Regions from separate parts of the Homo sapiens genome. Here region 1 is linked to region 2. The links come from fine-mapping of genetic effects on gene expression. A gene starts in region 2. The other region holds a variant in brackets. All regions are shown on one strand. Distances are from middle to middle. Region 1 holds the start of LOC124903282 (a long non-coding RNA gene). Region 2 holds the start of RNASE6 (ribonuclease A family member 6).

The links. PIP is the estimated chance that this variant, and not a neighbour inherited with it, causes the effect.
Region 1: its variant is fine-mapped to the expression of RNASE6 in whole blood (TOPMed, PIP above 0.99).

Annotation. Positions count from the first base shown.
Region 1 is chr14:20,713,185-20,718,565 of GRCh38, forward strand. LOC124903282 (a long non-coding RNA gene) reads right to left here and starts at 2,539. Exons shown (of 2, transcript XR_007064061.1): 1 at 1-2,539. The variant T/A (reference allele first, on the strand shown) is at 2,366.
Region 2 is chr14:20,779,064-20,784,444 of GRCh38, forward strand. It overlaps RNASE6 (ribonuclease A family member 6), which reads left to right and starts at 2,205. Exons shown (of 2, transcript NM_005615.5): 1 at 2,205-2,275; 2 at 2,632-3,404. The coding sequence starts at 2,637. The coding sequence ends at 3,089. The region is part of intron 1 of LOC107984671 (a long non-coding RNA gene); the gene reads right to left. RefSeq lists an enhancer at 3,280-3,349.

The DNA.
Region 1 (5,381 bases), 66 kb before region 2:
GTTGTTTTTCTGGAGAAAAACGTCACATGGCAATTTAGTTTACAAAGCAAATCTCACTCCAGCAAAGGAATTTGGTATTCCAGCATATAGAGGAAACTGTGTCTCAGCTCCAGATCTCTGTGTCCGGCAGTCTCCAGACTCTCCAGGGTCTGGAGAAAGGCTGTTTGCTGCATCTTGCCAGCGACAACCATCACAGGCACTGTTTTCCTAGTACTTTCAGTTTCTTTAGTGTTTCTACCTGAATAAGTCACACCAGTATTGATTAAAAAGTCAATCAATTTGTTCCCCATTGTCAATCGTACCTGAGGTTCCTGTGGGGAAATTACAACCTGCTCCAAAAGATTTGGGCCTCCTTCACTATCTGAGCTACAGTCCTGCTTTACCATCAGCCAGTATGTTTCTTCTCTGTCACTGTGTCTCCCTTCTTCTGGTTTCCCTGTCTTTTCTTTAATTTGGGGCACTCAGATTTCCAATGACCTTCCTCCTTGCAGGGGGCAGACTGATCATTACCTAGAGTTTTGTTCTGGCCACCTCCCTGTGCCTGGTTTTTCCTTTTCGGATATACATTCTTTCCACTAATTCCAAGTATATCATGGCTTGCTTTAGCTTTTTGGCCTTCCTGGCATTATATACTCTGAAGGCAATGTCCAGCAGTTGGGAAAGGTTTATTCCAAATACCCCCTCCAGTTTCTGCAGTTTTCGTTTAATATTGGATGAAAGTCACGTTTACCATTCTCATATTCTCAGGAGCTTCTGGATCATAGTCCATACACTTGTGGTAAACCTGGTAAATGCACTCCAGAAATTCACAGGGGTTCTCATCTGCCTTTGGGAGAACTGCCCTGGCTTTATTTAAGCTCTTTTACATTCTTCTCTTTAACCCTGCCAACACATGCTTTTTATAATGACTGGACAGGGCCATTCCTCCATTGTTGGGGTCCCAAGTAAAATCTGCAAGTGGAGCAGCCATTTCTATTCCTTCCCCATCCTGGGGAGAGGAGCTGACACCTTGGCCTCTCCGGGTCCTGGGCTACATTTGGTAATCCTGGGAGGGCTGGTGCCCCCAGTACCACATGGGAGGGGAAATTTAAGATATTTATGAGGCCCATATCATCAATATCCTCTTCCTTTTGGGTCTTACTATCTGGAAAGAGAAATCTCTTTTTCCCTTTTCTCTACGTCATTCACATAGACCCCTCATGTGCTGAGTCTTTGTTATGTAATAAATGCTTAAACACATGGAATCTCATTTCATTTCCCAGATCTTAGGCAAAATAACGCCAACTGTAATAAGGTGTACTAATGTAAATCACTGTTCAGTAGCCACCATTTTTCAGATTCCAACACATACATAGGCCAAACAGTGTTACAATGAAAAAAAATCATTATCTTTTTTGTTATGAGTTCATAGCTATAAGCTTTCCAATAAGCCAATATACAGCCCAATGGCCACTTAGATGGAATGGAAGTCAAGTTGCCCATTCTCAGGGGAGAGATCAAAAGAACACAAACACACAGATCAACACAGAGTACTCCTGAACCAATTCCTGTAGAAGGAGACTGGGAAGTTAATAAATCTTAGGCTAACTGATACTGCAAAAGACCTGTGTCAGGTCCAAATGGCATAAAGCCCAAATGGCAGAGACAGAGGATTTCTAGCATGCAAACTGGTTTGATTTACCCAGTCTTGAATCCTGTCAACTTCCTCAACTATCATTTTCCTTATACTAATAAAGCATTGCAGGCAGCTGATGCCACAGAGGGGGAAGGAGGGAAAAGATGTTCTTGGCAGCTGCTGGGACAACCCTAGAATCCCAGCTGGGAGGTCAGCTAGCCACGAGCAGCTAATCCTCATGAGAAGTTGTTGCTCTGCCTGGTAGCATGAATGAGTAAGCCCTGGCATGATGCCACAGCCAATTGCTCCATCCATCGGAAACCAGGCACGCTAGACCAGTAGAGACATATAGCCCCATGCTGGGTGATAAAAAATGTAACCAAACTGTTGGAAGTAAGTGCTCGGTGCCACAGAGTGAAAATAGCACTCAGGCAAAAATTTTCTCAGCAAAGCAATTTACTTCTATAGAAGGGTGCATCTCTCAGATGGAGCAATGGTGAGAGCACACCAGACAAGGGAGGAGAAGGGCGTCTTATTCCTAATGCAGCTAGTCCCTACTGCTGTGTCTTTCCCCTGTTGGCTAGGGTTGGACCACACAGTCTAAGCTAATTCCAGTTGGAAATTTTAAAGAGAGTGAGTGTATGAGCTGGAGTGGTGGGGTGAGTAGTTTCATCAGGGAAGGACAGTTACAGAACAGGAGAGTAAGGATGCCTAAGGACAGAACAGGTGATAGAGGCTAGGAGGGGGTTG[T/A]TTACTGAAACTAGAGGCAAGGAGGTGTAAAGAACAAGGAAGTTAAACTTCAAAATGGAGAACAAAGAACAGGGAAGCTGAACATACTGACGTATTTGTTCTTTGAAGAGGAACTCAGAACTCATTGTACTTAAATGATTTTTTTCTCCCTCTTGAATTTTTTTTTTTTTTTGAGATGGAGTCTTGCTCTGTCACCCAGGCTGGAGTGCAGTGGTGCAATCTAGGCTCACTGCAAGCTCCGCCTCCTGGGTTCACGCCATTCTCCTGCCTCAGCCTCCTGAGTAGCTGGGATTACAGGCACCCGCCACCACGCCCGGCTGATTTTTTTGTATTTTTTAGTAGAGACAGGGTTTCACCATGTTAGCCAGGATGGTCTCAATCTCCTGACCTCATGTTCTGCCTGCCTTGGCCTCCCAAAGTGCTGGGATTACAGGCATGAGCCACCACGCCCAGCCACCATCTTGAATTTTAAAGGAAGTTAACAGGCTAACTCTGAAGAGGAATTTACTGTATCCTACAATCTCCCCCCTTTCAATTTTCATAGGCCTTCCTCTTCAAACCTTTTTAACATGTCTTGGCTTTGCTGCTTGACTTGATCCTCTAAAAGAAGAAAGCTTTTCTGAATAAGGTGGAGGAAAGTTAAGGGAGGTTTTAGTAGGTGCTGTTTCTTTGCACTGCCCCACGGACGCATGGTATGACACAATACCCAACAAGAATGAGTACACCTATTACGGCTGCAAGAGAAGTAAGAATCGAGGCTATGATCTTTTCCATCTACTGAACCACCTTTCTAGCCATCCTGAGAAAGGGTTATTGACTCCAGAATCTTTAACTAATTCATTGGATAAAGCAGTAAGTCCTTGTAAGACCCTTGTTATGCTCCCAGTGGGGGCAGTGTTGCTTGGGATAAAGGTACAGCCCTGAGTTTTAATCATAACACCAACACTGCCTTTTTCAGCTAATATCACATCTAGGGCCATTCTGTTTTCCCAGGCCATCTGGCTAGTGGGCCCCAATTGTTCTGCTATCCCTTTGACAGCATCCCTGGTGTAATTAATAAACCACTGCTAATTATAATAGACGTAATTTATCCAATCTATGTTTTTATTAATTGTCACCCACAAAATCCTGCAGCTATTTAATCTTGACTCAAATCCTGCAGCTATTTAATCTTGATCTTTAAATTTATCTGGTACTCCTCATGGGACTCCAATTGCATCTAAATAAATGTGGGAGTTGAAAGACCCATAAGGAGCTTCCCTTGTTTTATGATGTTGTATTTTTCCTCTCTCTGGTTGATGAAATGCTAGGGTGGAAGGGATAGCCAATTAAACTAGAGCACAAGTGCTGCTCCAGTTACTTGGCAGAGAGTCCAGTAAAGGTCCACCACAATACCACCATACATATGCTTGGGGATGAACAAGGGCTGACTGATTGGTAAGCTCTTGGAAAGTCTTAAGCTCACTGCATCTTTTTAGGTCTCCAAGGAATGCTAAGTTTCCTCCCTGTAGTGAGAGATATGAAGTGAACTTAGCGTCAGGGGACAGAAGCTGAGTGGACCTTGGGGGCTGACCTGCAGGGTATTGAACCTCAGGATATAGCAGAGAGAGCTTGACACGACTTTTTACCCCAGGCTGTGTAATCCTGGAAAAAAGTAACCATACAGCCCATGCCTAGTAGACTAAAGGACTATCCTAATGGAAAGGGGACAATCTGGGCTTCTGGTCTGCCGTGCGCACAAGCATAACAAATGCTTTTGTTTAAAGTGTGGATGGAATGTTTGATCCACTCCAACCAGGCATTAGCATCTTGATATTCTGTCTCAATTGCCAAAGTTTGTTTTAGGTCTTTAACTTCTATAATAACTACCTTGGTCTTGTCATTAGATGGAGGAGAACAACAGTTTTGTTGTGAGAGCTTCTGGAAGAAGGCTTAAGGGAAGGTGTAGGCGGCAGAGGATCAATGAATTGTGTTTCAAAGGATCTGATAGGGTCTGTTCCTGAAACCTCAGCCCCCACACCATAAAACCGGCTTAAAGAAGGGAACCGGCTTAGAGAAGGGGAAGAGCTTTGAGGGTTTGAGATAATAACCTGTATTGGATTGCACGGTTCAGCTGACAGCTAGGTGAAGCTGTTCCTTTAGTAAAGTGAATATATGACTTTAGGAAATTACAACCACTGGTTGGGGCAGCTCATCCTTGCTCTTTAGTGGTCCACAGAATGTTGGACCAACTGTGGCATAAAAGCTCTGTCTTGCAGGAGCAAGACTCCCAGCTGATACTGGGGTCTTTATTGAAATCTCTCCAGACTAAATGATCCCCATTCACTAATGTCCAGTCTGAGGAGAGCCGGGAAGGACAGAGGTACTTTTCTGAATTGGAGAGCTGTCTTTAACTTGACAAGTCTCCACAAGGTATAACAAGGCAAGCATCAAATGTAATAGTTTGAGGTGAAATTGACTTTGTTACATTAATAATGAGGTGGTCAGCAATAGAATGAGGAAAGAAGAAGGAGTAATAAGAGAGTTAAATTTTTCTTAGCTTGGCTCACGCCTGTAATCCCAGCACTTTGGGAGGTCGAGACAGGTGGATCGTTTGAGGTCAGGAGTTCAAGACCAGCCTGGCCAACATGGTGAAACCCCATCTCTACTAAAAGTACAAAAATTATACAGGCGTAGTGGTACACGCCTGTAATCCCAGCTACTCGGAAGGCTGAGGCGGGAGAATTGCTCGAACCCGGGAGGTGGAGGTTGCAGTGAGTGAAGATCGCACCACTGCACTCCAGCCTGGGCAACAGAGCAAGACTCTGTCTCAAAAAAAAAAAAAATTTCTTAGCTTTAGTTTGGTAGGGTTTTCCCCTGGGACTATGGCCCACGACTCTGGAGGGGGCGGCACTTTCTTGACTTGGGTGTGATAGGTCCATCCTTTTTCTGCTGTCTGGACTGCGCTTTCAGTAGTTAGGAGCACTAGATAAGGTCCTTCCCAGGCCAGTTCCAGCTTTTCCTCCTTCTAGTTTTT
Region 2 (5,381 bases):
TAACCTATGAAAAGATTTATTTTTTGCATGTGTACATTCAGTTCTACTACCATTTGTTGAAAAGACTAACTTTTCTCAATTGAAAATTGATCCTTTGTCACAGATTAGTTCACTGTATTTGTGTGGGTCTACCTCTGGGCTTTCTACTTGGTTCCATTGACCTATTTGTCTATTTTTCACCAATAACACACTGTCTTAATTGCTGTAGCTTTATAGTAAGTTTTGAAGTTGGGTCACGTCAGTTTTCTGACTTTGTTCTTCTTTTTCTGCATTGTGTTGACTATTCTGAATCTTTTTTTTTTTTGAGACAGAGTCTCGCTCTGTCACCCAGGCTGGAGTGCAGTGGTGCGATCTCGGCTCACTGCAAGCTCCACCTCCCGGGTTCAAGCGATTCTCGTGCCTCAGCCTCCCAAGTAGCTGGTACTATAGGCGCCCGCCACCAGGCCTGGCTAATTTTTTGTATTTTTAGTAGAAACGGGGTTTCACTGTGTTAGCCAGGATGGTCTTGATCTCTTGACCTCGTGATCAGCCTGCCTCGGCCTCCCAAAGTGCTGGGATTACAGGCGTGAGCCACCGTGTCCAACCTGAATCTTTTACTTTTATATAAACTTCAGAGTCAGTTTGTCACTATCCACAAAATAATGTGCTGGGATATTGATTGAGATTGTGCTGAATCTATAGATCAAGTTGAGAGGAAATGACATCTTAACATATTGAGTATTCCTACTCATGTACATGGAATATCTGTGCTTCCTCAATTTCTTTCATTAGAGTTTTAAATTTTTCCTCATACCAATTTTTACATAATGTATTAGATTTACACCTAAGTATTTCACTTTCTTTGGTGCAATATAAATGGTATTGTGTTTTAAATATCAAATTGCAATTGTTCATTGCTGGTATATAAGAAAGCAACTGACTTTTGTATATTAACCTTGTATCCTGCAACCTTGCTATAAACAGACATTATGTTTATTCTGCAGACATTTGGAGCCATAAAAGCATGGGGCAAGAGTGTTGTACTATTATATCTTGTTCAAAAAAAGACTAATCTGGAAGTAATATGTAGAATGGATTGGAAGGAGAAAAAAACAAGGCAAGGAGTCCATGTGGGAGGCTTTTATGTGAGCCCTCCATAAGACAATGAGTTTCTGAATAAGGGTGTTGCAGTACCAGTGAAAAGGTAAGAACAGATTCAAGAGGCAAATATCCTAAATTCGGCCTTCTTCTTCAGGCTTACAGGTCTTTTCATACACAATTCTGTCTTTGGGAGGCGCTTAACACTCTCTTCACCTAACTTCTAATTATTCCTCAAAATTCAGTTCAGGTGTTGTGCCCTCCAACAATCCTTCCCCTCTACTATCTTCCCGTAGCCTCCTGCAGTGTCCTCCATCACACTGTAAGTGCTATTTATATTAATATAATCTACTTGTCTATATACTTACCTGCCTGTCTCTAATCTCTTTCATTAAATCATGAGCTCCTGGCAGATCACGAGGTCAGGAGATAGAGACCATCCTGGCTAACACAGTGAAACCCCGTCTCTACTAAAAATACAAAAAAATTAGCTGGGCGTGATGGCAGGCACCTGTAGTCCCAGCTACTCGGGAGGCTGAGGCAGGAGAATGGCATGAACCCAGGAGGTGGAGCTTGCAGTGAGCAAAGATCGCACCACTGCACTCCAGCCTGGGCGACAGAGCAAGACTCCGTCTCAAAAAAAAAAAAAAAAAAAACTCATGAGCTCCTGAATTTGTGTAGCCTAGTACCTGGCCCAATAAGTATATGCATAAATGAATAATGTATTCACTTCTGTTGTAGGAACTTACAACATTACCAAGTATGTGGCAGGCATTATATCATATTTATGTGACATATTTTCTCTTAAGAAACAGGAATCATAAAGCTTCAAAAAAAAACACTGAAGCCTCAGATGAGGCAGGAAGCACTCATTCCATATCAGGAAGTGATCAGTTCCTCAAAACTGTGAGTTTTCAGTCATGTTGTTTCTTTAAGTTGGTTTAGCCTTCCTGTATACATGTGATAATGATACTGTTTTAAAGAACAGGTGTGAAAGTCTAAGAGTTTAATCCAGACTCTGCACAAGAAGTTAATCTGCCAAACCCTAGGATTCTCCTTCTGAAAGCTCAGAATATTTCTTCCCCTTCCCTATACACACAGGGCTCGAAGGGTTAGAGAAGAAAGGCAGACAACAGCTTCTGAGCTTTGGACTAATCACAGCCTCTGTTCTCAGCAGGAGCCCCAACACTGAGACCAGGTAAGAAAGAAAGCCTCAGGGCTGGAGCGAGTAGAGCAGTAAAGACGGCTGGGAGGTAGTGGTCAGATAGAGGGTAAATATTTCAGGAGGGAAGAGGGAAGAAACTTTCTGATATGACAGCCATCAAATGCATGAGTACTTGTGAAAGAAAATGGGATATGCCAATCAAAGGAGAGGTCATATTTCTGTTTCCTGGGCTTCAGGTTCTTCATAGAATTGTGAGACTATGTGAGAAAGAAGATTTTAAAGGGAGCTGTAAAATCTTAAAAGGCAAAATAAAAATCTAAATAGTTATGATTAAAAATTTTGCTCTTATTGCTTCTCCTACTATAACTATCTTCTCTCTTTCTACACAGAAAAGATGGTGCTATGCTTTCCTCTTCTTTTACTGCTGCTGGTTCTATGGGGACCAGTGTGTCCACTTCATGCTTGGCCTAAGCGTCTCACCAAGGCTCACTGGTTTGAAATTCAGCATATACAGCCAAGTCCTCTCCAATGCAACAGGGCAATGAGTGGCATCAACAATTATACCCAGCACTGTAAGCATCAAAATACCTTTCTGCATGACTCTTTCCAGAATGTGGCTGCTGTCTGTGATTTGCTCAGCATTGTCTGCAAAAATCGTCGGCACAACTGCCACCAGAGCTCAAAGCCTGTCAACATGACTGACTGCAGACTCACTTCAGGAAAGTATCCCCAGTGCCGCTATAGTGCTGCTGCCCAGTACAAATTCTTCATTGTTGCCTGTGACCCCCCTCAGAAGAGCGATCCCCCCTACAAGTTGGTTCCTGTACACTTAGATAGTATTCTCTAAGGCATCCACTGCATTTCCTTTCATTTGACATAGCTTCTGTTACAATTGCATCCATGTTTTCTTTTCTTTTGTTGATTTTCTTGTTCCCGTAGAAGAAAGAAGAAAGGTGTTTGGAGAATTCGAGTGCCTAGGATGCCAGACCAGAGTTGAGACAAAAAGAAATAAGATTATTTTCTGCTTTGTAGTTCTGTACTTTTCGAGAGAAGGGAATAGGGAAGACAGCAAAGAAAGATTCAGATTTCTAACCCTGCAACTTTTGCCAAGCTTTATTGCCCTGTGTTCACAGCAATAAAACCACTTCCTGCTGCATTCTAATGAGTGTGTGTTTGAGATCCGCTTTCAAAGCATTGTTGACCGGTACTCAGAGGAACACTGTTTTGACTTTAAGTCCCTAGAAAACTTTTGAGGCCTCCCTGGGGCCCCACTTCCTTGCCCACAAGAAAGGACAGCGTTTGGGACTTTGGAGCATTTCTTCAAACTCTGCTCATGACTTTATATATTCCCCTGGAAACCATTGTCTATGCTTAATTGGAGGTAGTACTGATACCTCAAAGACAGTTGATGATAACTCACACATAGATTCTGTCACTGGCAACTGAAGGATCCTATGTCTTTTCTATTTGTTTCCGTTTTTAATCAGATAATGTTTTAAATATAAGGTGATAGTAGTAGTAATAGGGATAATAATCCATTGTAGTAACCTTAGGGTCAATCCTCCATTATTTATTGAAATGGATAAATAGAAAGCATAGATCAAGAAAAAAGCACTAGGCTTGTCGTGGTGGCTCACGCCTGTAATCCCAGCACTTTAGGAGGCTGAGGCAGGTGGATCGTCTGAGGTCAGGAGTTCAAGACCAGCCTGGCCAACATGGTGAAACGCTATCTCTACTAAAGATACAAAAAAAGTAGCTGGGCGTGGTGGCAGTGCCTGTAATCCCAGCTACTCGGGAGGCTGAGGCAGGAGAATCGCTTGAACCCAGGAGGTAGAAGTTGCAGTGAGCAAATATTGTGTCACTGCACTCCAGCCTGGGCAACAGAGTGAGACTCCCATCTCAAAAACAAAAAAAGAAAAAGAGAAAAGCACCAGGAGACCCAATGCAGTGGCTCACACCAGTAATCCCAGCACTTTGGGAGGCCGAGGCAGGCAGACGACTTGAGGCCAAGAGTTTGAGACCAGCCTGGCCAATGTGGTGAAACCCCATCTCTACTAAAAATACAAAAAATTAGCCAGACATGATGGCAGGAGCCTGTAATCCCAGCTAATCAGGAGCCTGAGGCAAGAGAATCGCTTGAACCTGGGAGGCAGAGGCTGTAGTGAGCCGAGATTGCACCACTGCACTCCAGCCTGGGTGACAGAGCGAAACTCCCGTCTCAAAAAAAAAAAAAAAAAAAGGAAAGAAAGAAAGAGAAAAAAGCACTAGGAAACTAAAAACATTCTAGTCCTATGTAAATACTGAAATACCACAGAAGTATTGGGGTTTTGGAACAGAACCTGAACTAAGCCATTTCACAGAAGGAACTTCAGTTTCCTTGTCAACCTCTAGAGTCATTGGGCTAGTGGGCCAGTGTAAATCCCAAGTGCTTTGTACAGTGATGAGTCTTCAAGTAGCAGCCAAAGACAATGAAGTTTTTTTGAAAAGGCTACATATTGTAGTGTCTTCATTACCTGTGCTGCAAATGATTCTTTCCAAGCCAGACTATTAGTTTAATAGATATGCTAACTCAGCTCACCTTCCTTTACGCTACACATTTATGTCATATCTTAGGAACAAAGAATGGAATATGAGGTTTCAGGAGCCTGGATTCCAGGGTGATGACTGATCAAGGGCCCTCCCATTGGGAAGAGATTAGCAGGTCAGGGCAATATGGCACCTAAGAAGGTGGGTACCTTATAGAGGGAATCCTACAGTGGGACTTGAGTGCTCTAACTCAAAGCAGCTTTCAGTTGTATTCAGCTTTAAGCCATGTTGCATTTACATTTTATTGTCTCAGAGTCTTCATGTAAAGTGTGGTGGAATGGCAGGGAGAATCTGTGCTCACGTTTGGTATGAACAAGTATACGAAAGTAGCAGCATCTGAAAGGAAAGGGGTTGAATGGATTTATATGAACATTACCTGGAAATTGCCAGAGATTCTTAAAGGTAATCTAGTAAAACCAAACAACTCAATTGCTCATGCTATTGTTATTTATATAGTAAAGGTATCTCATGGATTGAATACATCTGTGCTGCAAAAATTTTTCAACTGTCAGAAACATTAGGGAACATGAAATGTTACTTAAAATTAGTGAAA